Linked DNA regions of Homo sapiens. The protein of the gene in region 6 interacts with the protein of the main gene of each other region in a pairwise test. Each region holds a gene or a part of one and is shown on either strand. Other genes may lie near its edges.

Evidence for each region.
Region 1: the proteins of PECAM1 (region 6) and IDH1 interact in binary tests that used the Homo sapiens proteins (3 or more experiments, as listed by UniProt).
Region 2: the proteins of PECAM1 (region 6) and PRUNE2 interact in binary tests that used the Homo sapiens proteins (3 or more experiments, as listed by UniProt).
Region 3: the proteins of PECAM1 (region 6) and SMARCB1 interact in binary tests that used the Homo sapiens proteins (3 or more experiments, as listed by UniProt).
Region 4: the proteins of PECAM1 (region 6) and WDR44 interact in binary tests that used the Homo sapiens proteins (3 or more experiments, as listed by UniProt).
Region 5: the proteins of PECAM1 (region 6) and AGGF1 interact in binary tests that used the Homo sapiens proteins (3 or more experiments, as listed by UniProt).
Region 7: the proteins of PECAM1 (region 6) and RIMS3 interact in binary tests that used the Homo sapiens proteins (3 or more experiments, as listed by UniProt).

The regions. Positions count from the first base shown.
Region 1 is NC_000002.12:208,245,072-208,248,571, forward strand, and holds part of IDH1 (isocitrate dehydrogenase [NADP] cytoplasmic), read right to left. Parts: coding exon 3,298-3,500; intron 354-3,297; coding exon 248-353; intron 1-247. UniProt on the Homo sapiens protein: Catalyzes the NADP(+)-dependent oxidative decarboxylation of isocitrate (D-threo-isocitrate) to 2-ketoglutarate (2-oxoglutarate), which is required by other enzymes such as the phytanoyl-CoA dioxygenase.
Region 2 is NC_000009.12:76,903,315-76,907,513, forward strand, and holds the start of PRUNE2 (protein prune homolog 2), read right to left. Parts: upstream 2,801-4,199; 5' UTR 2,650-2,800; coding exon 2,614-2,649; intron 1-2,613. UniProt on the Homo sapiens protein: May play an important role in regulating differentiation, survival and aggressiveness of the tumor cells.
Region 3 is NC_000022.11:23,789,966-23,793,465, reverse strand, and holds part of SMARCB1 (SWI/SNF-related matrix-associated actin-dependent regulator of chromatin subfamily B member 1), read right to left. Parts: intron 1,711-3,500; coding exon 1,572-1,710; intron 1-1,571.
Region 4 is NC_000023.11:118,349,106-118,352,605, reverse strand, and holds part of WDR44 (WD repeat-containing protein 44), read right to left. Parts: intron 1-3,500. UniProt on the Homo sapiens protein: Downstream effector for Rab11 which regulates Rab11 intracellular membrane trafficking functions such as endocytic recycling, intracellular ciliogenesis and protein export.
Region 5 is NC_000005.10:77,043,904-77,047,403, forward strand, and holds part of AGGF1 (angiogenic factor with G patch and FHA domains 1), read left to right. Parts: intron 1-2,443; coding exon 2,444-2,774; intron 2,775-3,500. UniProt on the Homo sapiens protein: Promotes angiogenesis and the proliferation of endothelial cells. Able to bind to endothelial cells and promote cell proliferation, suggesting that it may act in an autocrine fashion.
Region 6 is NC_000017.11:64,359,861-64,363,360, reverse strand, and holds part of PECAM1 (platelet endothelial cell adhesion molecule precursor), read left to right. Parts: coding exon 1-212; intron 213-2,945; coding exon 2,946-3,221; intron 3,222-3,500. UniProt on the Homo sapiens protein: Cell adhesion molecule which is required for leukocyte transendothelial migration (TEM) under most inflammatory conditions.
Region 7 is NC_000001.11:40,655,683-40,659,182, forward strand, and holds part of RIMS3 (regulating synaptic membrane exocytosis protein 3), read right to left. Parts: exon of another isoform or gene 2,351-3,500; intron 1-2,350. UniProt on the Homo sapiens protein: Regulates synaptic membrane exocytosis.

The DNA.
Region 1 (3,500 bases), on a different chromosome or scaffold from region 6:
AATCATCTCCTTGTCTTTGCCTAAAGGCATTTCCAATTAAGTGGGTAACCCTTTTGTGCCTTTATTCATGCCACAGGAAGGTATGGAAGCAAATTACTTCTTTATGTCAAGTTTCGGGTTTTGCAAAAACACTGTAGATTCAGATTATATTTTTAGGCAGTCACATAACTAACAAAAAAAGCAATAAAAATATTATCTAAATCATTTGTTTAAAAAAAAAAGAAGCTTATGCTACAGTCATACATACCTTCAAAGTTATGTACCAGGTATGTCACCTTTTGGGTTCCGTCACTTGGTGTGTAGGTTATCTCTACTTTTCCAGGCCCAGGAACAACAAAATCAGTTGCTCTGTACTGTGTAGAGGGGAAAAAGGTATAAAGAAAAAAAAAATACCCTAGCAGGAATTGTAAGGAGAATATTCATATAATATAGACCTAGAAGACACCTAGACAAATAGGGCAGTATGTCAAACTTCTTTTTTTTTTTTTTTTTTTAGGAGATGGGGATGAAGAGGTCCAGACATTCCCCTAAATCAGTAAATATTTATTAGGTGCCTATACGAGGTATAGGAAAGTTTTCTGAGCACTGATTTGAAGAGGACAGAGAATAACATAAGCCACTTTCCTTTAGGAAGTTTACAACCCTATAAAGACATATATAAGTGAAAAGCAATATAAGAGCTTTCAAATGCCAAAAGAGGGTATTAGACCCCCCCCCCAAAAAAAAAAAAACTATAGGATGACAGAGGAAAAGAGGTGACCATGGAAGGAAGTCAGGGAAGTCTCCCTAGAGGGTGATGATAACAATACTAATTGTAGTACTGAGGTAGCTAATGCTTTGTCCTTACTCTATGCCAGATGCTTTAAATGCTTAACTTGCATAATCTCATTTGATTCTTACATCAGTCTTACAAGGAGGGAACTATGATATAGTAGAAATAATGCATCCAGGGTCAAAGGACTTGAGGTCTCGTCCTTACTTAGGCCATCGGGGCTCGGTCTCTCATGGTATCATTGTTACTAGTGTTATAGGACTTGTTCATATGGAGCAATCAAATCATTCTGGGAGCAGCTACAATGGGATGATGATGATTTTTAGGAAAGGGCTGTTCAAGGACAGGCACCTCCCTCATGGGCCTCAGCTACTCAGTGGAATAATATGCCTGGCATATACTAGACATCCATAAGTCTTTGCTGCATTGTATCTTCTTCAATGAATTGAATCAGATACTTGCAGAGTTAGGTACCAGCAGGTGCCGGCCACATCTATAAGTGTAGAGAAATACTAATAACAACTGGTAAAAGAGCAGTAAGTAACAATAAAGATTAAACACCTACTTTACACAGAACATTTTTGACATATAAAATCCATAAAGTAAATATGGGTGGTAATTTATTACTATTTCTGAAAAGGGAGAAACTGAGGTACCAAAGCACCATAAATGCTTTGTATAGGTTTATGTATATTTAAACAGTCCATGAATCAACCTGAGGTTTGAAATTCTCTTTCTGGACTTTAATAAATAGAATGGCCATTTTTACAAATGACTGATGCCAAAATAATTAAAAAAAAAAAAAAAAAGAGGAAGGCCGGGCATGGTGGCATGCCTGTAATCCCAGCACTTTGGGAGGCGGAGGCGGAGGCGGGCGGATCACAAGGTCAGGAGTTTGAGACCAGCCTGACCAACATGGTGAAACCCCGTCTCTACTAAAAACACAAAAATTAGCCGGGCATGGTAGCATGTGCCTGTAATCCCAGCTACTCAAGAGGCTGAGGCAGGAGAATTGCTTGAACCCGGGAGGCAGAGGTTGCAGTGAGCCAAGATCACACCACTGCACTCCAGCCTGGGCGACAGAGCGAGACTCTGTCTCAAAAACAAAAAACAAAAAGGATATACGCAGAAAAAAGGCACGACTGAACTGGAAAGAATCTAGGGTGATTTTTACAAGATTAGCGAGTTTGCACCACTGCCATCTACCTTCCCTTGCTTGGGCCCCTGGGAGCTATTTCTGAAGGCTTTGGCCAGGATGAAAGGATAGTTTTAGCCACAGAGTGGAACAAAGTTAACTGACCCCTCAAGGACTAAACTGTTTACCCTCAACACACTGTTTTCAATGATGGCTACATTAAAACCTCTGGATTTCAGCATGAGAGATTCCTGTTTTTAAGGTCCTTTTAAGACATAAACTACTTTCTGTGAAAGTCTGAAACCTCAGTTTCAACACTGAACTTTGATTTTGTTTACTTGGCAGTTTTTTTGCTTAATTTGGCAACAAGTGTACTGGTACAGAAGTAAAGAAGCAATACTTTTTTTCCAGGCAGGAAGGAATGCTTTAGTAAGGCTGCTTTCAACTACCGAGTCAGTTTTTTTTTTCTTTTTCTTTTTCGAGACAGGGTCTTGCTCTGTTGCGTAGGCAGTGGTGTGATCATAGCTCATAGCTGTAACCTTGAACTCCTAGGCTTAAGGGATCCTCAGGCCTCAGCCTTCCAAGTAGCTGGGACTATAGGCACATGCCACCCCACTCAGCTTCGCCTACTCACTTTGTATATGAATAAACAAAACTGGCTCTTCCATGAACAATTGACATAATTATTGAAATACTTTTCATTTTTGTAGAGACAGGGTTCTGCTATGTTGTCCAGGCTAGTCTCAAACTCCTGGCCTCAAGCAGTGCTTCCAAATTGGCCTCCAAAGTGCTAGGATTACAGGTGTGAACCATAGTACCCAGCCAGTTTTTTCTTTTATGCATGATGGGATCATGTTTAATACAATCTTTGGTGGTTCTCAAGTTTGCACATTAGATTCACCTGGGGAGCTTTAAAATGCCTGAACCCCATGGAATTCAGATTTTAATTTGTGTAGGGTGGTACTCAAGCATTGAAACTAAAACAAAGAAACAAATCAAGCAAAGCAAAACAAAACCACCAAAAAAACTTGTAAGGGGATCCTATTGTGCAGCCAGTGTTGAAAACCACAGATCTGGTTGAACCATATGAAATTACCAACATAAAAATGGCAATATCATATGGTATAACTGAATAAAAGGATAAAGGAAAAAAAACAGCATGTTTGAAAAAAAATGTGTTGAGATGGACGCCTATTTGTAAGTTTATTTGTATTTGCCTTTAGCTAAATGTGTGTAAATATACAGTTATACATATATGCATTTCTCAATTTCATACCTTGCTTAATGGGTGTAGATACCAAAAGATAAGAATAAAACACATACAAGTTGGAAATTTCTGGGCCATGAAAAAAAAAACATGCAAAATCACATTATTGCCAACATGACTTACTTGATCCCCATAAGCATGACGACCTATGATGATAGGTTTTACCCATCCACTCACAAGCCGGGGGATATTTTTGCAGATAATGGCTTCTCTGAAGACCGTGCCACCCAGAATATTTCGTATGGTGCCATTTGGTGATTTCCACATTTGTTTCAACTTGAACTCCTCAACCCTCTTCTCATCAGGAGTGATAGTGGCACATTTGA
Region 2 (4,199 bases), on a different chromosome or scaffold from region 6:
TCAAACCATTAAAAAATATATATAATGCCCACAGAATAACAAAGCAATTAAGCCAAATAGGAAAAAAAAAAACCAAACTAGTAATTAGGCTTTTTTGTTTGTTTGTTTAGGTATCATATAGCTAAACTTCTAAAGAAAAACATTTAAAACATAGCTCCTACATTCTAATTCTGGTCTAATAAGGCTTAAGTAAAAATCAGCATGGTAAATTTCTTCACCTTAAAATGTTTTCCAAAGGATTGGCTGAATTTTTAAAAATCTTACTATTTTATTTTATTTTATTTTATTTTTGAGACTGAGTCTCGCTCTGTTGCCCAGGCTGGAGTGCAGTGGCACAATCTCGACTCACTGCAACCTCCGCCTCCGAGGTTCAAGTGATTCTCCTGCCTCTGCCCCCCTAGTAGCTGGGATTACAGGCACACGCCACCATGCCTGGCTAACTTTTGTACTTTTAGTAGAGATGAGGTTTCACCATGTTGGCCAGGCTGGTTTCGAACTCCTGACCTCAGGTGATCCACCCGCCTCAGCCTCCCAAAGTGCTGGGATTACAGGCGTGAGCCACCACACCCGGCCAAATCTTACCTTTTTATTATAAATAAATTTCCCACAAGTGAATGACATTGACTTAATTCTTTTTCTCCAAGAAAAAGGTTATCTACCCTCTAAAGGAGAATGTTATCTACTACTATATTTGAGTGTCATACATTAAGTAAAAATCTTATTACCTAGAAAATGTAACTTCTCAGGAAAATATGACACTAAAAGTGACCAACACACCTTTGCTGTGGCTGGATGTGAAAGGTTAATCATGATTTCTAGAAGAAGCTTATTCCAAGAAACGATAAAATTAGCAGTAATTGTTCTGGCTAAGACATGAAACTGGTAACAATATTTCAAACAACCGCTTCTCTTTCCTGTCCTTTTTTTTTTAATGATGTAGAGCAATTGCTCGTCTAATGAAGGGTAAATAAATTACAGATTACTTTCAACTCATTACTCGGAAATAGGGAAACTTCCATTCCAGCAACTGCTCCTCAGAATTGAGACAAACCTCTTGCTCATATCAGACCCCACAGTCTAAATGTTTATTGTGAAAATATTGATAAATAAATGTTATGGGAGTGAAAAACAGATACAGCCCAGAACTCTGTGTTTGTCATTGATTACCATTTTCATACACACACACGCACAGTTGCCAAAATTGTCTTTCATTTTTGAACATTTCTCCTTCATTACTAGGTAAAGAACAGAACATGTACTTATACTATCAGAAATGCCAAATACTTACTTGAGTTTCTGAAATTAGTATTTTCATCCATGTGCTCTAGTAAAACTATAAAAGGGTCAATAAACACAGAGATGATCACAAACTTCCTCAACTCGGAAATCTCCACAAACGTTCAACTCTCTGGGAGGTTTCAGGTAGAAAGTTTTATATAAGCACTTATCAACTTTAATGGTCTTTTACAAGATAGTTACAGTTAGACCATTGTAAGGATCACACTTCCGTCTGCACTCTGAATGGTGGTTCAGGCATCTTTGGGCCCTCCCTTCCTGCACTCCCTTTGTTGTGCGAGGGTAAATGAGTTACAGTAATAACCCTGCAAATATCCTGCCTTGTGATTAAAACATTACCTTAATGCAGACTTTACATTTTGGCTTCTATGAAGGCTTAAAGGTTAAAGGCATCATAAATTATGCATTTCTTTCTATGCCAGGCCTGTAAAAGGTGCTTTTACAGTTCTTTAAAGATATTGCTTCTAAATGAGTACAGGCTTTTCTTTTTTTTTCTGCCAAAACAGAAACATTTCCATTATGTTTATTACTGCTGTGCTGGAGAGCCAAAACAGTTTGGAATTAAGAAACTGCTAGAGTCTGTTGTTTCAGAATGTGTAGCAACTGTTAACATACACAGTGGAGTTGCCCATTCACTGTTTGGACAGTGATATGGTAAACATGGGCTAACACACAGGTCTGCTCCCGGGAGAACGATGATCTGGTAAACTCCAGAACACCAACAGTTAGAGCTTTCCCCTTCTGCCTCCGCCCCAATTTACAGATGTGAACAGGAATTAGCGAGACACAAGACACACTAGAATATCCCTAACTCCTGCAGTGGAGCAAGCTCTATTCTGTGGATTCTCCAGTACCACACATGTCCTTGCTACCCAGCACCCTGACTTCCTCACTTTTGTCACCTCCAGCTGAAGTACAGTTCTAAGGGTCTCTTTTTTTCCTTTTACACTTACACGTAATGCATCTGCAGAAGGCTGGGCTCTTTATCTCAAGGAAGACCACACCCATTTATCCCTTAGCTTTCAGGAGCAAACTGCTGATTTAGGGACCGAAGCTGGACTGAAGCGACCCAACTTCAGCCAGGCCACAACCTCCTTCAGCTCTGCACCTCGTCTGGTTGCGGTGGAGGATTCTGGAGACAGATTGCCAGCTTTAAGAGCCAGAGTTCCTGAGATTTCTTCCAGGAGACAACCCGCACACCCTGATAACTCCGTGGCAAAGTTGTTTCTTCCTCCTCTGCTGCAACACCTTTTCCTCTCCACCTTTCCATTAGCATACGCGCGCGCGCACACACACAGCTTTGCTCACTCAACTTACCAGTTTAGATTTGGCGCGTTGCAAAAATTCTTCCATGTCGTGGCTAGGGGTTTGGAACCCGGGTACTCGGAGGGGCGCAGTGGAAAATCTCGGCCCAAGGAAGACGAGCGGGGTCCCGGGAAAGTGGCCCGCCGGGGCGCAGCGACCGACTGCTCCCTCCTGCCGCTCTGAGGCGGCTGCGGCGGAGGCTGTGCTTGCGCCCTCGACCGTCTCGCCCAGGGCTCCCCGCCCCACCCCTCGCCCGGCCGCCGGCTCTGGGCACCCGACTCTGCCCTAATAAGGAAAGTGGGTGTGCCGCCCAGGAGCCCCGGGGCGCGCCGGGCACGCTCTCTGGCACGCGCCTCGGGCGCCGTGGCGCGTGGGCGGAGGTGCAGGGGTATGGCGAGGGGCTCCTCCGCCAATCGCAGGGCCGTGCTGCGGCCTCCTGACGTGGCGCGCCGAAAGCTGCTGCAACCATGGACAGCGCCCAGAAGTGCGAGCCAAGTGCAAGGGGCTGCTGCAGAGGGAGGCTCTGCCGCAGGCACCGCCGCGGTCAGCGGGGGAAGGTGGGAAGAGGGAGACGGGTCCCAGGAGAGCCCCCGCCTCGCCCAGCGCCTCACTGGCTGGCTGGCGCGTTACGGAGCACTCCGGCGGTCACTTAATGATCTGGTCGGCTGGCCTGGCCGGGGGAGGCACTCAGCTAGATTGGCGTGGGAGGGACGAGGAGAGAAAGAGGGGAGTTACTGCTGAGCTAAAAGCAGTACGACCTTGATGGATAATAATCAGAAGAGCAGGCTAGGAGGTTGGGCGAGGCTGCGTCTTTCCTCCCTACCATGAAAACATGTCCACACAACAATGGGCATCCACAGTTCACCCCAACTAGGTGCCCTTATGTCAGCCCTGGGACTAATGCATAGATACATCCTTCTGCAGTTCCCATCCACTGACATGTACCCTCAGGGAAAGCTGGGGCAATAGAACCTTGCTAAGGTGAGGTGCAGTCTGCAGACCGGCAACATCAGCATCGCTGATCTTATAGAAATGCAGAACCTCAGTCCCCTGCTCCTACTTACCAAATCAGAATCTGTGTGTTTCTATGAGACCCTCAGATGATTTCTATGCTTGTTAAAGTTTAAGAAGTACTACAATGAACAAATGAACTTATATCTACAAACCTTATTTTAAATCATGGGGTTTTGTTGTATGTAGCCTTGTCCGGTCCCCAAACACACTACATCAGGCTTTCTCTGACCTCTGGGCTTTTGCACACCACCTGTAAGATCCTTCCAGCCCTTGTCCTAGCCCCCAGCCTCAGCTGTTCTACAGAAGTAGCCTCAACCCTGACTGCACAGTAAAATCACATCGTAATCACCTGAGACTTGAGAAAGTACTGATACCAGGGCTTTATCCCAGTCCAATTAAATTAATATCTCTGGGCATGGGGCCACAGCATTTCTGTGGAAAGTGACCCAAGTGATTCTAATGTGCAGTTCAGGTGTGATGCTCTGATTCTCGATGAACTTTACATGTATCTAAATCACTTAGAGGGCTTGATGAAACACAGATTTCCGTGCCCCATCCTTAGAATTTTAGCCCTAATAGGTGTG
Region 3 (3,500 bases), on a different chromosome or scaffold from region 6:
CGGGAGGTGGGAAAAGCAAGGTGTCAAACTTACTACTGCTGAATGCTGGCCTCTTCCAAAAGGGCAATCTGGACTGAGTGCTTTACTTACAAGTCCTGCTGGGTAGAGCCTCCAATGGGACTGATTTGGACTAATCTGCCCCAGGAGCACTGGCTCGGGGCAGAGGGAAGTGCTCAGGGCAGCACCAGCAACTACAATACAGCACGACCAGCGGGGACACTCGACTCCAGAACATATTCTCTTGGTCCTCACTCAGGGGAAAAGAAAGCTCCCAGAGTAACACCCCAGTGGGAAGAGGTCTGACACCACCACAATCCACAACACGATGCAAGGTGGGGAGATGGAATGGAAGATGAAGAATACTTTTCTTTTAAAACAAGAGCCCAGAGAGTTGGAAAGAGCTGCTTCACACCAAACACGAATTTCTATCCCCGAGCCGGTCCACACGTGCTGCCTGGGAAGCAGGACAGATTCTAGGCAGCTCGACCCCTAGCTCTTCCGGGGAATCTCCGTCAAGAGCTACCTGTCTGTGGGCCCAGTCTGGCTTCTCCTGGAGAAATCAATCGCTTATGGGGAAGGTATCTCCCAAGACTTAGCCCAGGGACTTGCGGAGGGGGAAGCAAAGCTGGGGACTCACTGTGTTAGCGACTGATGCTCTGCTAGGGGAGGAGGGGGAACAAAAAGGAAACTGTTTTAAGCAAGTGAGTGGAAATGTCATAGCAGCAGATCAAAAAGAAGCTCCGGCTCCTGCATTAAAAGAACCACTACTTTCCCGCAGTGGACAAAACCACAGCAGCACCTACAGACACAAACAAACAGGGCAGACTACGAAGCATCGCGCACATGCTCACAGACACACCCAGGCCCAGGGCAGCTCTCTACAAGGCGCCATTGCCACGTGGGAAGCAGTTTTGCCACCTGCCCAAGGACATGCTGTGTCCACACCCAAATGTCTCCATGGGAGTGTCTCCCACAGAGCCCCCAGAGTGTCTGAAGAGCACCCTTTCACCCTGCACAGAGCTGCCGTGACCCAAAGCCCACTAGTTTCACTAGTGTACCTAGCAAGCCCCAGGCACACGCAGGCCACCAGGAGCAGGGACATGCACATGGGCTCTAGCACACTGGCTGCCAGGATGAAGTGCTATGGGATGGATGTGCTCCAGGAAGCAAGCAGTGAAAGCCCCAGAGGGGAGTGGGAGCTGGGACCACCACCCGCCACTTGGGCTGCATGGAAGATGATTATGGCGACACACCCACGACAGATGGCAGAGCATCGCAGCATTCCTAAAACGTTTTGAGACCAACATGTCTTCACAGCACCTGCTAGTGTCCTGGCCCCGGCCCGCTCACATACCCAATGGCCCTGCTGGAAATAACTGACAGTGGACCACCAATGGCTCCCTGGAGCCACTTCCTTGCCTGGAGTGCTCACAGGGCGGCCCACCCCGGGATGCTCCCTGCCCGACTAAGGCCAAGGCTGCAGTGAAGACACTCTGGAGTGAAAACGTTTTATCTTCATGACATAAGCGAGTGGTTTTGAAACAGGTTTACAAACCCTCGTGAAGACGCACCCTTAGTGTTAGGTTTTGTTTTTTTACCATGTGACGATGCAACTATTTTCTTCCTCTCTTCCACAGTGGCTAGTCGCCTCCAGAGTGAGGGGTATCTCTTGTACAGAGAACCTCGGAACATACGGAGGTAGTTTCCCACCTATGAGTAAAGCAAGAAGGCTCATTATAAGGGTCGCAGCACCACAGGGAAGGGGAGGGTCCTGGCGCAGACTGCATCAAGCAACAGACAAACAGGCCTTGAGGTGGCCCCCAGGCGCCACGCTTTCGGCAGCATTAAAACACATTCTGCTGATATGAAGGGTTCACCAGCAGTGCACATCTGGCCTGCATATGTGCATCCTGACAACAGAACCAAGTTCCGAAAGGCCTGGGCAGATGCCTGAGTGGGAGGCCCCCAGAGCTTAGCAAGAAGTTCGTGGTGATTTTGATTTTGGACTAAGGATCTCTGGCACTTTCCAGAAATGCAAGGCCTCCTTGACCTTCTTTTATCTTAAGGACAAGACTTTGATATCTTTACAATGTAATAAACACCAAAAAGGTCTTTTAATTTTAGACAGATGCCAGATAATTTCCCCCATGGCCTGTGTTGCTTTGTTTAGTAACAAAACCCAAACCAGGGATACCAAAGGAATTTTCCAAAAGGTTTACAAGGCAATCACCAGACTGCTATATAAATCATCACTGACTCAAACAATGGCTTCAGTTTGCTTGTAGCAAATACTGAAAGTGTGACTTCCTTAAGGAAAATAAATCTAGACCTAAAGTTTTTATGAGGGTACCCTATTGTCTCGTTGACTTTTCAAGTATGATCACTTCGGAGTCACATTGCAGGGGATGGCCAATAGACTGGGTGCCAGGTGCTGGCTCCATCTGTAACCTGGGATCACTTCCCATTTTCTGGGTACCCTTTACTCATCTGCCAAATGCTCAGCAACTCTGAACTTCACCCCCATGAAGGACCACTTCTATTATGTTTCCCATTTTATCTACGCAACATAGTATATATTTTGCATTTTTAAATTTATTTTTAATTTTTATTATTATTTTTGAGACAGGGTCTCGCTCTGTCACCCAGGCTCGATTGCAGTGGTGCGATCGATCATAGCTCACTGCAGCCTCGAACTCCTCGGCTCAAGCGATCCTCCTGCCTCAGCCTCCTGAGTAGCTGGGACTATAGTTGCTTGCCACCACAACCGGCTAATTTTTGTATTTTTTGTAGAGACGGAGTTTCACCATGTTGCCCAGGCTGGTCTCAAACTCCTGGGCTCAAGCGATCTGCCCACCTCGGCCTCCCAAAGTGCTGGGATTACGGGTGTGAGCCACATACCCGGCCTAATTAAAAAAAATAAAAATAAAAATCTGTAGAGACAAGAGTCTCACTATGTTGCCCAGGCTGGTCTTAAACTCCTGGGTTCAAGTGATTCTCCTGCCTGGGCCTCCCAAAGTGCTAGGATTATAGGTGTGAGACCCAGGCATAGTATTAAATAAAATGTTTCTCCATTTTCAGCAGTGACTGTAATCAACAACCAGGGCTACTGAACGCTGAGAGAAGAGCAGACACAGCAAGTCACTCGCTTTCCACATAGAGGGCACAGACCCCTCTATGTTATTTGGCTTGTGTGTCAGTATCATCCAGTATCATGGTAAATGTAGAGTTTCCATTAGGTTTTTTAAAAGAAATTGACAATACTCCCCCCTATGACTACCTTGCAGGCCCTGCAGGGCTCTGAGTCTCCTAGATGCCCCCCAAAGCCCCTTCAGAACTTAGGAAACTGGGCTTGCCTTCCTGGCTTTCCTCTGAACCAGCCTTCACCCTCTTGGGACCCAGGTTTCCTGAATATAAAATCAAGGTGCTGGACTTGGGGATCTGTTAGGGTCCTCAAAGCTCCATGACTCCGGCTTGGTAAATACAGCTGTCTGTTAATGGCA
Region 4 (3,500 bases), on a different chromosome or scaffold from region 6:
GTTAGACAGTAAGTCTAAAATACCAATAATTAGAAATTATTTTCTGTTTAAGACCACCACTATACTTCACATCCTAAAACTATTTAGGTTTTTAATATTTTTTAAAATCAAGGGACAGGTGCAGTGGTGCATACCTGTAATCTCAGCACTTTGGGAGGTCGAGGTTGGGTGGATCAGTTGAGCCCAGGAGTTTGAGACTAGCCTGGGCAACATGGTGAAACCCCATCTCTACAAAAAAAAAAAAAAAAAAAAATATATATATATATATATATATATATATATATATAAATTAGCTGGGCGTGGTGGTGCACATATGTGGTCCCAGCTACTTGGGAGGCTGAGGTGGGAGGATCACCTGAGCCTGGGGAGGTCGAGGCTGCAGTGAGCTGAGATTGCACCATTGCACTCTAGCCTGGGTGACAGAGTGAGACCCTGTCTCAAAAAAAAAAACAAAAAACAAAAAACAAACAACACAAATTTTATCTGTCCTATCTTATGAAGTAGATTATCACAAGAAGAGAATACAGTTTCCAATTTACAGGAGTTTATACAGATTCAACTTGAGCCCCCAAATTGCCATGCCACTATGGACTATCCTACCCCCATGAGTTACCAACTGACAGTCAGATGTCACTAAATATAAATTGTTTATTTATTTATTTTTGAGACGGAGTCTTGCTCTGTTGCCCAGGCTGGAGTGCAGTGGCATGACCACAGCTCACTGTAACCTCCGCCTCCCGGGTTCAAGCGATTCTCCTGCCTCAGCCTCCCAAGTAGCTGGGTGTGTGCTACCATGCTCGGCTAATTTTTGTATTTTTAGTAGAGATGGGGTTTGACCACGTTGGCCAGGCTGGTCTCGAACTCCTGACCTCAGGTGATCCACCCGCCTCAGCCTCCCAAACTGCTGAGATTACAGGCGTGAGTCATGGTGCCCGGCCGGATGTCACTAAATTTAGAACTTGAATTTACTAACTAATATGTAGAGGGTTGTTTTTTCTCACTTCAATATGATGTTACATGAGTGCGATAAAACAGCATTTGTAAATATACTTCTATCACTCCTTAAAGCCTTCAGTAATCAAATTTGTGATCAAATGTCAACTCATCAACAAACAGCCATTTTTAAGGAAACTTCCCTAAAGTAATAAATATTGCACAGGTATTTTTTAAATTAAAACTTGTATCAATTTTCAATTCAGAGAGAAATGTTTCTGACACCTAAGTAAAGTGAGAAGCTGAGTTTTCAACAAAGGCAGCTACACACCTTTTTGTTTTTCAGACCTAACAATTATTCAGGACAGTTTGGTCTCAGTTCCCATGACTTAAGATTTTATCATTATTCCTATCTGAATATGGTAGATTGCAGTTAATACTAACTAAATGCCTAAGAATAAAATAATACAAATAATCACTGTTCTTAGACAAGCTATTTTGCCATTGTTTTTCACTTTCACTTGGAAAAAACTCGTAAGCAAAACTTAGGATTCTAAAATAGTTCAAGACCTCTGATAGGCAAGGTATGAAGAAACAGTCAAGTAAACCATCTTAAAAGCCCAGCTAATAGGGTAAGTGCCAGAAACCTATGGCAGGAATAGCCAGCAATACTTTCCCTTCTTCCGCAGACATGGTAGCATGGTATAAGTGAGGAATCAAGAGACCTGGGCTCTAGTTCCAAGTCTGCCCTTATTAGCAATGTGTCACTTCCCCTCTCAGACCCTAAATTTCACTTTCAGTTAAAAGGGAAGGCTGGGCTAAAATGATCTCCAGTCCCTTCCTACTCTAAAAATGTTATGATTCTATCCTTCTTCCAAGGCCTCAAAAATATTTTGGCTGCCACTAAAAAAAAGAGTGCTGAAAATGTTACATTTATTTTTACAACATGTTCTCAGTGCCAGCCTTTAGTATGTGTAAGTATAAACCACATGAGTTAGCAGGGGCATTCATCTCATATATAATTTACCCAGTAAATACTTAATTTCAAATTTATGGGTCTTGAACTATGTACCAAATACCATTAAGTTAAACGAAAAGATTAAAAAAAATCACGAAAGATTTACCAAGAACAAAAGCTTATCAATACAAGCACACTATTAAACCTCAATATAAAGACATTTAGAGTTGGAAGGGTTCTCAAGAGTGTAATCCCCTCAATTTAAAGATGAGGAAATAAAATGACTCACAGTGCAGGGCTCTTTTCTAGTGTACCACACGATTCCTCTTCTCTTTCCTGCTCTATCAAAAGACAGCCCAGTAGCAGAAAGAACGCCAGACAGTCAAACTGATCCGGGTTCTAGACCTAGCTCCACCATTAATTTGCTGTGGCAGCTTTTACAAGTTGCTTTCTCTCTCTAGGTTTCAGTTTTCACAACATTTTACACGAAGGAGTTTAACTAGATGTCCCTTCTAGCTGCAACAGGCTATGATCTTGCAAAATTCCTATCTGACAAAACAAAAATACACGTTGCTGAAAGAAAGTGGAATTTCTTGCCAAGAGAACAAAAAAGTTTAGGCTGCTGGTTTTAATGGAGATGTATCAGTTCAATTCAGCAACTTGGTCCTAAAGCATTTTACTCCAGAATTTACCAGGGGAGGATCTCTGTCCACCTCTCTGTCACTGCTCTCATCGCCCTCCACAGGAAAAAAAAAAAAAAATACTGGACTAGGAGTCTGAAGAGCTGGTTTCAAATCCCAGTTCTGCCACTTAAAAGCTCTCTCCTAGGACAAATTCACTTAACCGTCTCTGAGTCTAAGGTTCCTAGGCCAGGTGCGGTGGCTCACGCCTGTAATCCCAGCACTGTGGGAGGCCGAGGCGGGCGGACCATGAGGTTAGGAGTTCAAGACCAGCCTGACGAACATGGTGAAACCCCGTCTCTCCTAAAAATTAGCTGGGCGTGGTGGCGCACACCTGTAGTCCCAGCTACTCAGGAGGCTGAGGCAGGAGACTCTCTTGAACCCGGGAGGCGAAGGTTGCAGTGAGCAGAGATCGTGCCACTGCACTCCAGCCTGGGCGACAGAGCGAGACTCCATCTCAAAAAAAAAAAAAAATGTTCCTCATATGTAAAAATGAAGATAAAAATGAGAAAACCTGGGCCTGGCGAGATGGCTCATGCCTGACAGTAATCCCAGCGCCCTGGGAGACTGAGGTGGGAGGATCACTTGAAGCCAGGAGTTTGAGACCAGCCTGGGCAACATAGCAAGACCCCATCTCTAAAAAAACCTTTAGCTGAGCAGGGTGGTATGCACCTGTGGGAAGATAACTTGAGCTTAGGAGTTTGATGCTGCAGTGAGCCATGATCTCACCACCTCTCCAGCCTGGGCAACAGAGTGAGACCCTATCTTGGAAAAAAAAAAAAAGAAAAGAAAAAAGAAAATAAAGAAAACCTGACCTAAAATATCAATAAAAAAGCATTATAAATACGGCATATATTGCAAAGCTGGGCAAGTGAAGATCATCTGCCACTGTAGAAAAGTAGGCTGTACTGGAATTAAAAGTCTCTAAA
Region 5 (3,500 bases), on a different chromosome or scaffold from region 6:
GTCTCGGCCGGGCAGAGGCGCTCCTCACATCCCAGATGGGGCGGCGGGGCAGAGGCGCTCCCCACATCTCAGACAATGGGCGGCCGGGCAGAGACGCTCCTCACTTCCTAGATGTGATGGCGGCTGGGAAGAGACGCTCCTCACTTCCTAGATGGGATGGCGGCCGGGCGGAGACGCTCCTCACTTTCCAGACTGGGCAGCCAGGCAGAGGGGCTCCTCACATCCCAGACGATGGGCGGCCAGGCAGAGACACTCCTCACTTCCCAGACAGGGTGGCGGCCGGGCAGAGGCTGCAATCTCGGCACTTTGGGAGGCCAGGGCAGGCGGCTGGGAGGTGTAGGTTGTAGTGAGCCGAGATCACGCCACTGCACTCCAGCCTGGGCACCATTGAGCACTCGACAAGAACTTTTAAGAAAAATCCTGTTGGAATTTTGAGAATTTCCTGAGGATTCTAAAAGGTACCTGTGAGGCCAAGAGAGTATCTTCATCTGTTTTCTTTATTTTTAAAGATATTTTTGAGCCTCACTTTTTGTAGGTGAAGGTTATGTGGAAGGAAGACAGTAGGGGAGATAGGAGTAAATAATTTGAAATATACATATGTGCCTCAGTGCCCATAAATAAGCCCTCCTTTCTTTTCACTTAATGACTATCTAATGTTCTGTACTGGCAAATAGCTTTCCCTGCATATGTTGTTCAGTAAGTAATAAATATACAAGATTGGAAACTGCTTTTTTAAGAGTATATACAGATAGGGAACTTTTTTGCTATAATTTTATAATGTAAAAGCTCCTCATGGTTTTTCAGCTCCTTGCCCTTGTTCTTGTTCTGGGTGAATTTGTATTGCTAGAAGTGTGTATAATTTATCACACTGTGAATGTTTAGCCAGTCTCCAAGCTGAACTTACGCTGTTATCAAAGATAGGTATGTGAGGTGGATGGATCATGAGGTCAAGAGATCGAGACCAGTCTGGCCAACATGGTGAAACCCCATCTCTACTAAAAATAAAAAAATTACCTGGGTATGGTGGTGCGCATGCCTGTAGTCCCAGCTACTCGGGAGGCTGAGGCAGTAGAATCTCTTGAACCTGGGAGGTGGAGGTTGGAGCGAGCCGAGATCGCGCCACTGCACTCCAGCCTGGGCGACAGAGCGAGACTCCGTCTCAAAAAAAAAAAAAAAGAAAGAAAGGTGTGTGAGATGCTCTCATATTTTATAAAATAACAGAAGAGCATATGAATTCGCCTCATGTTGCTCTGAGGTAGAAAGAAAAGTGAGAGTGCGTTAGAAACCAAGGGAAAAAAATGGAAAATAATTATTTACTTTTTCTAAGGCTGAAATGATAGATTTGACCATTGTATAACACGGTGACTATTGTTAATAACAATGTGTTGTATTATTGCAAACTGCTGAGAGCAAATTTTAAGTTTCTTACCACAGAAAAATAAGTATTTGAGGTAATGTACATGTTAATTAGCTCAATTTAACCACTGTACATTGTGTACGTATTTCAAAACTTCATGTTGTACATGATAAAAATACATCATTTTTGTTAATTAAAAAATGTTCATTTATTATAAGGCATATCAACTATAAATGTACAATAAATAATAAAAGACTTATGCCAGGCAAGTTAAAATTTTGGAATAAGATAGTCACAGTTAATTTGTACTTTAAACTTTTATGTATTATCAAGCTGAATCTGAAGTACTAAATTTTAGCAAAACTACAATTTTGCTACATATTGAGTACATTTGGATCTTTAAATTCATGTCATAAGTAAAGCTAATTCTGTATTTTATTTGTGTTGACTAGCTAATTGATTACCAGTTTAAAAAGAAAATTTAGAATAGGTATTCTTTAGGCCTGCACTATCCAGTAAGGTAGCCAGCAGCTCCATGTGGCTGTTGAGCACTTGAAGTTTTGCTAATCCAAACTCAAATGTGCTGTTAAGTGTAAAATACACTCTGGATGTTGCAGACTATGTAAACTATCTCATTAATAATTTTACTTTTTAAATGTGGCTACTAGAAAATGTAAAAGTACAAATATGGTTTGTGTTACATTTTTATTGGACACCATTGGTCTAGGCTATCCCATAGTCCAGGCAGTATGTGATGAGGGCCTGAACTAGGAATGTTAAGACATTGAGAATAGAGAGACAGATTTGGATATATTTTGAGAAAAGTCTGTAGCACTTCGTAATTTTATATATGGTTAAGGGGATCTCAGAGATAACTATAGGATTTTTAATTTGGATAATAAGAAGATGGTAATATCATTAACCAAGAAAGGAAATGTGAGAAGGAGAGGGGGAACAGATTGTAACCATTGTTATTTTACTGACACATATCTTCACGAATTCGTTGAAACTTGATGTAATGTTATAAGATAGTGATGTTTAAGAGTATTCTCCCCTGTTCCCTCGTATCTACCCACCCTTCTCCAGGATTTGAACTCAGAGGATCAAAAAGCCTTCAGTGTTGAACATACAAGCTGCAATGAGGAAGAAAATTTCGCAAATATGAAAAAGAAGGCCAAAATAGGCATTCATCACAAAAATAGTCCCCCCAAAGTCACTGTTCCAACTAGTGGAAATACTATAGAGTCTCCTCTTCATGAAAACATCTCTAATTCAACATCATTTAAAGATGAGAAAATCATGGAGACTGATAGTGAACCAGAGGAAGGTGAAATTACAGACTCTCAGACTGAGGATAGTTATGACGAAGCCATTACCAGTGAAGGCAATGTAACTGCAGAAGATAGTGAGGATGAAGGTGAGTAAATAATCATTATTTAAGTAAATAGCCCAGTCTGGTAACTATAAAAGAGCAAAACCATTAAAAATGTTAGTGAGTTGTAGTATATCTGCCAGAAAGTAAACATTATTTTAATGATGTTATTGAAAATGTTGTGGGTTGCCACTTGGTTATTCTTAGAGAGTAGGATGTGAATAAATGACTAATACTTAGACCTTCAGAAGGTTTCATTGTATTGAATGGCATAGTCAGTAGAATACAAAGCCAGGTTACCTGGATTCTAATCTTAAAATATAGATTAAGGCTGTTTTAGTGGGTTAGATATTTGTAGTCTACTTTTGTAACTGAGAGAGAAAAACAAGTTGTCTTTAAAAAGTATACATTATGAATTCAGCTACATGGATATTATGGTAAATCTAATTTTTTTTTACTTGAATATATAAAGACATACTTTTAAAACACAGGATTTCATATTACAGTTGGCCTTCTGTATCCATGGGTTCTACTTTAGTGGATTCAAGCAACCTCAGATCAAAAATATTCAGGGAAAAAAATGGATAGCTACATCTGTACTGAACATGTACACACTTTTTTTCTTGTTATTGTCCCCTAAATATGGTGTACCTATTTATATAGCATTTACATTGTATTAGGTGTAAGTAATCTAGAGATGATTTAAGTTATACAGAAGGATGCACATAAGTTATATGCAAATACGATACAATTTATATAAGGACTTGAACA
Region 6 (3,500 bases):
ACATCTGGACCAAGGTGAAAGACTGAACCTGTCCTGCTCCATCCCAGGAGCACCTCCAGCCAACTTCACCATCCAGAAGGAAGATACGATTGTGTCACAGACTCAAGATTTCACCAAGATAGCCTCAAAGTCGGACAGTGGGACGTATATCTGCACTGCAGGTATTGACAAAGTGGTCAAGAAAAGCAACACAGTCCAGATAGTCGTATGTGGTGAGTATATTGTTGCTGACTCAGAGGACATCCAGGGTTGAATGGGAGAAAGGAAATTTATCTGCAGCTGCCGCCCTCTCCGGTCTGAGCAGACTCAGGCAGGGTAAGAACTAGAGGGAGAGAAGTGCGAAATCAAAGGCCAAAGAAACAAGGAGGTATTCCTGCTCAGAACACTGATTCACTGATGATGATGTGGCCTCTGACTTGCTAAGATTCTGGCAAGATTCTGCCTCCTGGAGCAAGTACCCACCCAAAAGTTCAGGAAGGAAACACTACTTAGTCAATGTTAAACTTTTCTTTTTTTTTTTTTTGAGACGTGTCGCCCAGGCTAGAGTGCAGTGGCACGATAGCTCACTGCAACCTCTGCCTCCTAGGTTCAAGTGATCTCCTGCCTCAGCCTCCCAAGTAGCTGGGATTACAGGTGCCCACCACCATGTCTGCCTAATTTTTGTATTTTTATTTTTATTACTTTTATTTATTTATTTATTTATTTTTTTGAGATGCAGTCTCGCTCTGTCACCCAGGCTGGAGTGCAGTGGCACAATCTGGGCTCACTGCAAGCTCCGCCTCCTGGGTTCACGCCATTCTCCTGCCTCAGCCTCCCAAGTAGCTGGGACTACAGGCACCCGCAACCACGCCCGGATAATATTTTTTTGTATTTTTAGTAGAGATGGGGTTTCACCGTGTTAGCCAGGATGGTCTCCATCTCCTGACCTCGTGATCTGCCTGCCTCAGCCTCCCAAAGTCCTGGGATTACAGGCCTGAGCCACCACACCCGGCCAAGAATATCAAAATTCCATTTTTTAAATCTGTATCCTGGCTAACCCAAAAGGGTAAGACTTCCAGTGGACAGAATGTAGGTATTTGACCACCAGGAGCTGGGCTTCTCAGGCCTGAATGTGCATGCAAGACCTGGTTAAAATACAGGTTATGATTCAGTATTTTAGGCCCAGATGGGGCCAGGTTCTGCATCTCTAACTAGCATTTTGGTGATGTGGATGCTGTTGGTCTCTGGACCACACTTTGGGTGGCGAGATTCTGGTTGATTATAGAACTCCAGTCAAGTTGTCACTGTCACTATATTATTCAGTCACGATCCTTTCATTTAACCTGTGGCTGTGTTTTATCCAGCTAAGATTTTATTATAGCTTCAACTGAACCAGGATTTTAGCCTATTTTTAATGCTCTAACCACCTAACTCAAAAGGCAGGAATGCAAGAGACAAATGTGTGTTATAACGTTTTATTTTATTTTTTGTTCTTGGGAGGAGGAAATCTCATTGTATAAGGTTTAAATAAACTAATGCCTAAATAATGACCTAATATAATTCTTATCTGTTAAGAGGCTGAAGCACTAAGAAGACTTTTTTTATCTTTTTTTTTTTTTTTTTTTTTTGAGATGGAGTTTTGCTCTTGTTACCCAGGCTGGAGTGCAATGACATGATCTCGGCTCACTGCAACCTCTGCCTCCCGGGTTCAAGCGATTCTCCTGCCTCAGCCTCCCGAGTAGCTAGGATTACAGGCATGTGCCACCTTGCCCAGCTAATTTTGTATTTTCAGTAGAGACGGGGTTTCTCTACATTGGTCAGGCTGGTCTTAAAGTCCTGACCTCAGGTGATCTGCCCACCTCGGCCTCCCAAAGTGCTGGGATTACAGGCATGAGCCACCGTGACTGGCTGAGAATAATTTAAAAACATATATATTGGCTGGACCTGGTGGCTCACACCTGTAATCCCAACAATTTGGCAGGCCAAGGTGGGTGGATCACCTGAGGTCAGGAGTTTGAGGCCAGCCTGGCCAACATGGTGAAACCCCCTCTCTACTAAAAATACAAAAGTTAGCCGGGTGTGGTGGCACATGCCTGTAATCCCAGCTACTCGGGAGGCTGAGGCAGGAGAATCCCTTGGACCCAGGAGGTGGAGGTTGTGGTCAGCTGAGATTGCGCCATTGCACTCCAGCCTGGGTGACAGAGCAAGACTCGGTCTCAGAACACACACACACACACACACACACACACACATATATGCTCAGCCAGGTGTGGTGGCTCATACTTATAATCCCAGCACTTTGGGCAGCTGATGTGGGAGGATCACTTGAGTCCAGGAGTTCAAGACCAGCCTGAGCACATAGTGAGACCCTGTCTCTACAAAAAATAAAGAATTAGCCAGGTGTGGTGTGCACCTATAGTCCCAGCTACTCGGGAGGCTGAGGTAGGAGGATTGCTTGATTCTGGGAGGTTGTAGTGAGCTGTCATCGCACCAGTGCACTCCAGCCTGGGTAATAGAGTGAGACCCTGTCTCAAATACACACACACACACACACACACACACACACATTTTGTTGGCTACTTGTTGTACTTTTTCTATGTTTTCTGTGTCTTTGCTCAACACAAGAAAAGTATATTATGTGTGCATGTGCGTGTGAGATATGGTAAAATATGAACATGTATTTCTGGGGATGTAATGTTTTCCTTGAATTTCTGTCATTCTCTGTTTTGCTTATTGTACTTCTCTTTCCCTTTCCCTTCTCACCACACACACACACACACACACACACACACACACACAGCCTGTCAGTCTCATAGGTGTCCTATAAAGGTAAATAAGGCAGGCAGGCATTTGAAATTACAGCAGGGATAGAAAGCAAAGCTCAGGCTTTGGAGGAGGAACCTCTTGTGCTGGATGCTTTGCTTTTACCTTCAGTGCCTTTTGGATTGTTTCTCCCTCTGTTCTAGAAATGCTCTCCCAGCCCAGGATTTCTTATGATGCCCAGTTTGAGGTCATAAAAGGACAGACCATCGAAGTCCGTTGCGAATCGATCAGTGGAACTTTGCCTATTTCTTACCAACTTTTAAAAACAAGTAAAGTTTTGGAGAATAGTACCAAGAACTCAAATGATCCTGCGGTATTCAAAGACAACCCCACTGAAGACGTCGAATACCAGTGTGTTGCAGATAATTGCCATTCCCATGCCAAAATGTTAAGTGAGGTTCTGAGGGTGAAGGTGATAGGTAAGTTGCTGTGCTGTGAGAAGAAATCATGTGGGCTTGGGGCATTCTTTCACGCCCAGGGACTGTGGGAACAATAAGAGAAGTAGGGGGCCAGGTGCGGTGGCTCATGCCTGTAATCCCAGCACTTTAGGAGGCCAAGGCCGGTGAATCATTGAGGCCAGGAGTTCAAGACCAGCCTGGCCAACATGGTGAAACCCCATCTCTACTAAAAATACAAAAATTAGCTGGGCATGGTGGCGTGCGCCTATAATCCCAGCCACTCGGGAGGCTGAGGCAGGA
Region 7 (3,500 bases), on a different chromosome or scaffold from region 6:
GTGTCACCTCAATGATTTCTGCCAAATCTACAGACTCCTAGGCTGGGCACGGTGGCTCACGCCTGTAATCCCAATACTTTGGGAGTCTCAGGCAGGCAGATCACTTGAGGTCAGGAGTTCAAGGCCAGCCTGGCCGATATGGTCAAACCCCGTCTGGATGGTCAAACTAAAAATACAAAAATTAGCCGGGCATGGTGGCACGCACCTGTAATCCCAGCTACTTGGGAGGCTGAGATAGGAGAATCGCTTGAACCCAGGAGGCAGAAGCTGCAGTGAACTAAGATCGTGCCACTGCACTCCAGCCTGGGCGACAGAGACTCCGTCTCAAAAAACAAACAAACAAACAAAACAAATCTACAGACTCTTGTACTGTTTATTACTTATTTTCTTTAAATTGACACTCTGGCTAGGGGCAGTGGCTCACACCCATAGTCCCAGCTATTTGGGAGGCTGAGGTGGGAGGATCACTTGAGTCCAGGAGGTCAAGGCTGAGGTGAGCCAAGAACAGGCCTCTACACTCCAGCCTGAGCGACAGAGTGAGATCTAGTCTCGATAAATAAACAAACAGATAAAAATAAATTGACACTTTTAACTTTAATGCAACTATTTTCAATAGAAACCATGTTATTACTATAAATGGAAAGCCAGTATCACTTTTAATAAATAGAAAATGACAATAAAACAAACACAGTAAAAACAGTTATGATATTATGTTTTAGCTATATGGAGTTGCCAGGCAATGTTCTGAGCCTAGCCTGAGAGCTCTCTGTTAAAAAGGGAGGGCAACCAGTGTTGGAAAGTTGTTAAAGACACATTAGAGGCCGGGCGCGGTGGCTCACGCCTGTAATCCTAGCACTTTGGGAGGCCAAGGCAGGTGGATCAACTGAGGTCGGGAGTTCATGAACAGCCTGACCAACATGGAGAAACTCCGTCTCCACTAAATATACAAAATTAGCCGGGCGTGGTGGTGCATGCCTGTAATCCCAGCTACTCGGGAAGCTGTGGCAGGAGAATCTCTTGAACCCAGGAGGCAGAGGTTGTGGTGAGCTGAGATTGCGCCATTGCACTCCAGCCTGGGCAACAAGAGCGAAACTCCGTCTCAAAAAAAAAAAAAAAAAAAGACACACTAGAAACTACACTGACATGTTCTCCCTTGGACAATCTTGGACTTGATATCGTTGAGAGGGAACCAACTTTCTCACTACGTGAGCTAATGTTAAGAAATGGCACTGAAAGTCATCCCTGGTCCCACTCCACATATTGGGAAGCTCTAGGCTTGTCCACCTCTTGCAGGAGTTCGGGCACAGTGCCCCGCTAGTGCCCTGTTGCTACAGCCTATTCTGGTAATAACAATCTTTTAGAAATTCCTTGGTCCTTTCCTATTCACAAATTGTCATAACGGCCACCATCTAATATGAGCCTCAGAGCAGGAATTATCTTCCCCGTTTCTGAATGAGAAATGTGAGGCTCAGAAAGGATGAGACGTGTCCATAGTCACAGAGCTAGCTACACAGGGGAGATCCACACGTCAGAGACTTGACGTCCACCCAGACACCTTTTCTACTCTACCTGCATCCATCTGTTCCACAGTTGGCAGCCCTTGCTGGGCAGTGGGGAAAGAGGCAGGATGGTAACCTGCTATCTGCCCGTGAGACCTTCACAATCCCAAACAGCAAGCAGACAAATCAGCAAATCACCGAGATTAAGAGAGGTGAAGAGCTTTAAAATCTAGCCTGTAAATGCCTAAACTGCAGTTTCCTTGTCTGTAAAATGAGATGACAGACTGGGTGTCGTGAATCACACCTGTAATCCCAGCACTTTCAGAGGCCAAGATGGGAGGATTGCTTGAGCCCAGGAGTTGGAGACCAATCTGGGCAACAGGGTGAAACCCTGTCTCTACAAAAAAATACAAAACTGAGCTGGGCATGGTGGCATGAGCCTGTGGTCCTAGCTACCAGGGAGGCTGAGGTGGGAGGATTACCTGAGCCCAGGAGTTCAAAGCTGCAGTGAGCCGTGACCCAGCCATTGCACTCCAGCCTGGGTGACAGAATGTGACAATGTCTCAAAAAAAAAAAAAAAAAAAAAAAATTAGCCAGGCATGGTGGTGTGCACCTGTAGTCCCAACTTCTTGGGAGGATCATTTGAGCCTAGGAAGTTGAGACTGCAGTGAGCTGTGTTCAAGTCACTGCACTCCAGCCTGGGCAACAAAGTGAGACCTTGTCTCTAAAATAAAATAAAATTTATATGTTTTAAAAAAATAAAATAAAATGGGAATAATAATAGTACCCATCTTATAGAAGTGAAGATTAAATGAAATGTGTGAACACAATGTCTGGCACAGAGTAAGTGCTTAAAAAAAATGTTTATTACCAGGGAAGCACAAAGAACAGAATCAATACAGGTCAAGAATGAGTGACAGGGGGAAGGTGAGGTAGACATGGTTTGGTTTTTCACTGATGAAAAGAGTTACATCTTGGAGGATGAAGATTTTCGTGGGGAAAAACTCTTCTGCCTGTTCCTGGCTTCCTCTTCCCTCTCTCCTCACTCCAAAGCAAGGTGAGAAAATTCAGGCTTTCTTCTCCCTCTCTCTCCTCAGGCCTCTGAATGACATTTGACAGGTTCTTCAGAGCCTGTCCTGAGCACTGCTGCCCAGGAAAAGACTCTCCTTTAAGTCACAATTCCAGGCCTTTTTTCTCCAGCTGCTGTCCAGATGGAAGTTTGGGGCTCAGGCCCAACTGCCTGCACCCACATCGGCACTCTAAGAATTCCAGGAGATGTGTTTGGAAGCTAACGAAGATCCCCCTTCTCTGAGCGGGGCACTGAGAACCCTGTTTGCATGTCTCTTTGATCCTTCCCAGTAGGCTACAGATGACTGGACCAGGGTGGGCACCTGCCTCACTCTGAGCCAATCAGATCCTCTCCTGGGAGTTTGGGATTGGATCTGCCAAGCCCCAAGTTCTCTCTCTCCATGTGGCTGAAACCAAGGGACACAATACAGGAACTATAGGTGGCTTGGTGCCTGAAAAGGCAGAGATATCCAGTCTGTGGATACAGAAAGGCAGGGTGCAGAGAATGGCTGCTTCAAGTTCCCTTGGCCCTCCAGGTCCCGCCTTCCTGAAGCTAATGGTTTTCCTTCCCCTTAGTTCCAGGGAATCCCTTCTGTCCTTGTAATAAGCCCTTCTTTATTACTGAAGCTGGTTTGAGTGGGTTTCTGTATATAAGCAAAGACCTAATTAAGACAAGAGAGAAGCTGGGAGCCGGAGGTACGCAGATGAACAATCCTGAAAAAATAATCACTGTGCCTACGTCGGAGAAGCCCAGTGCAGTGGGAGACAGCGAGTAAGAGATGTAGACTTTGCACAGATGTGGCAGAGGGAGGGTGGGCTAACTCTGCCTGGGGAGGAGCGGAAGGGCTCCACAGGCTTCACAGCGAAGGTAGCAGCTGAGCCGATTTTGAAGAATTAAGGACATTCTCCATGGAGACAAAGTAGGGGTGGGGA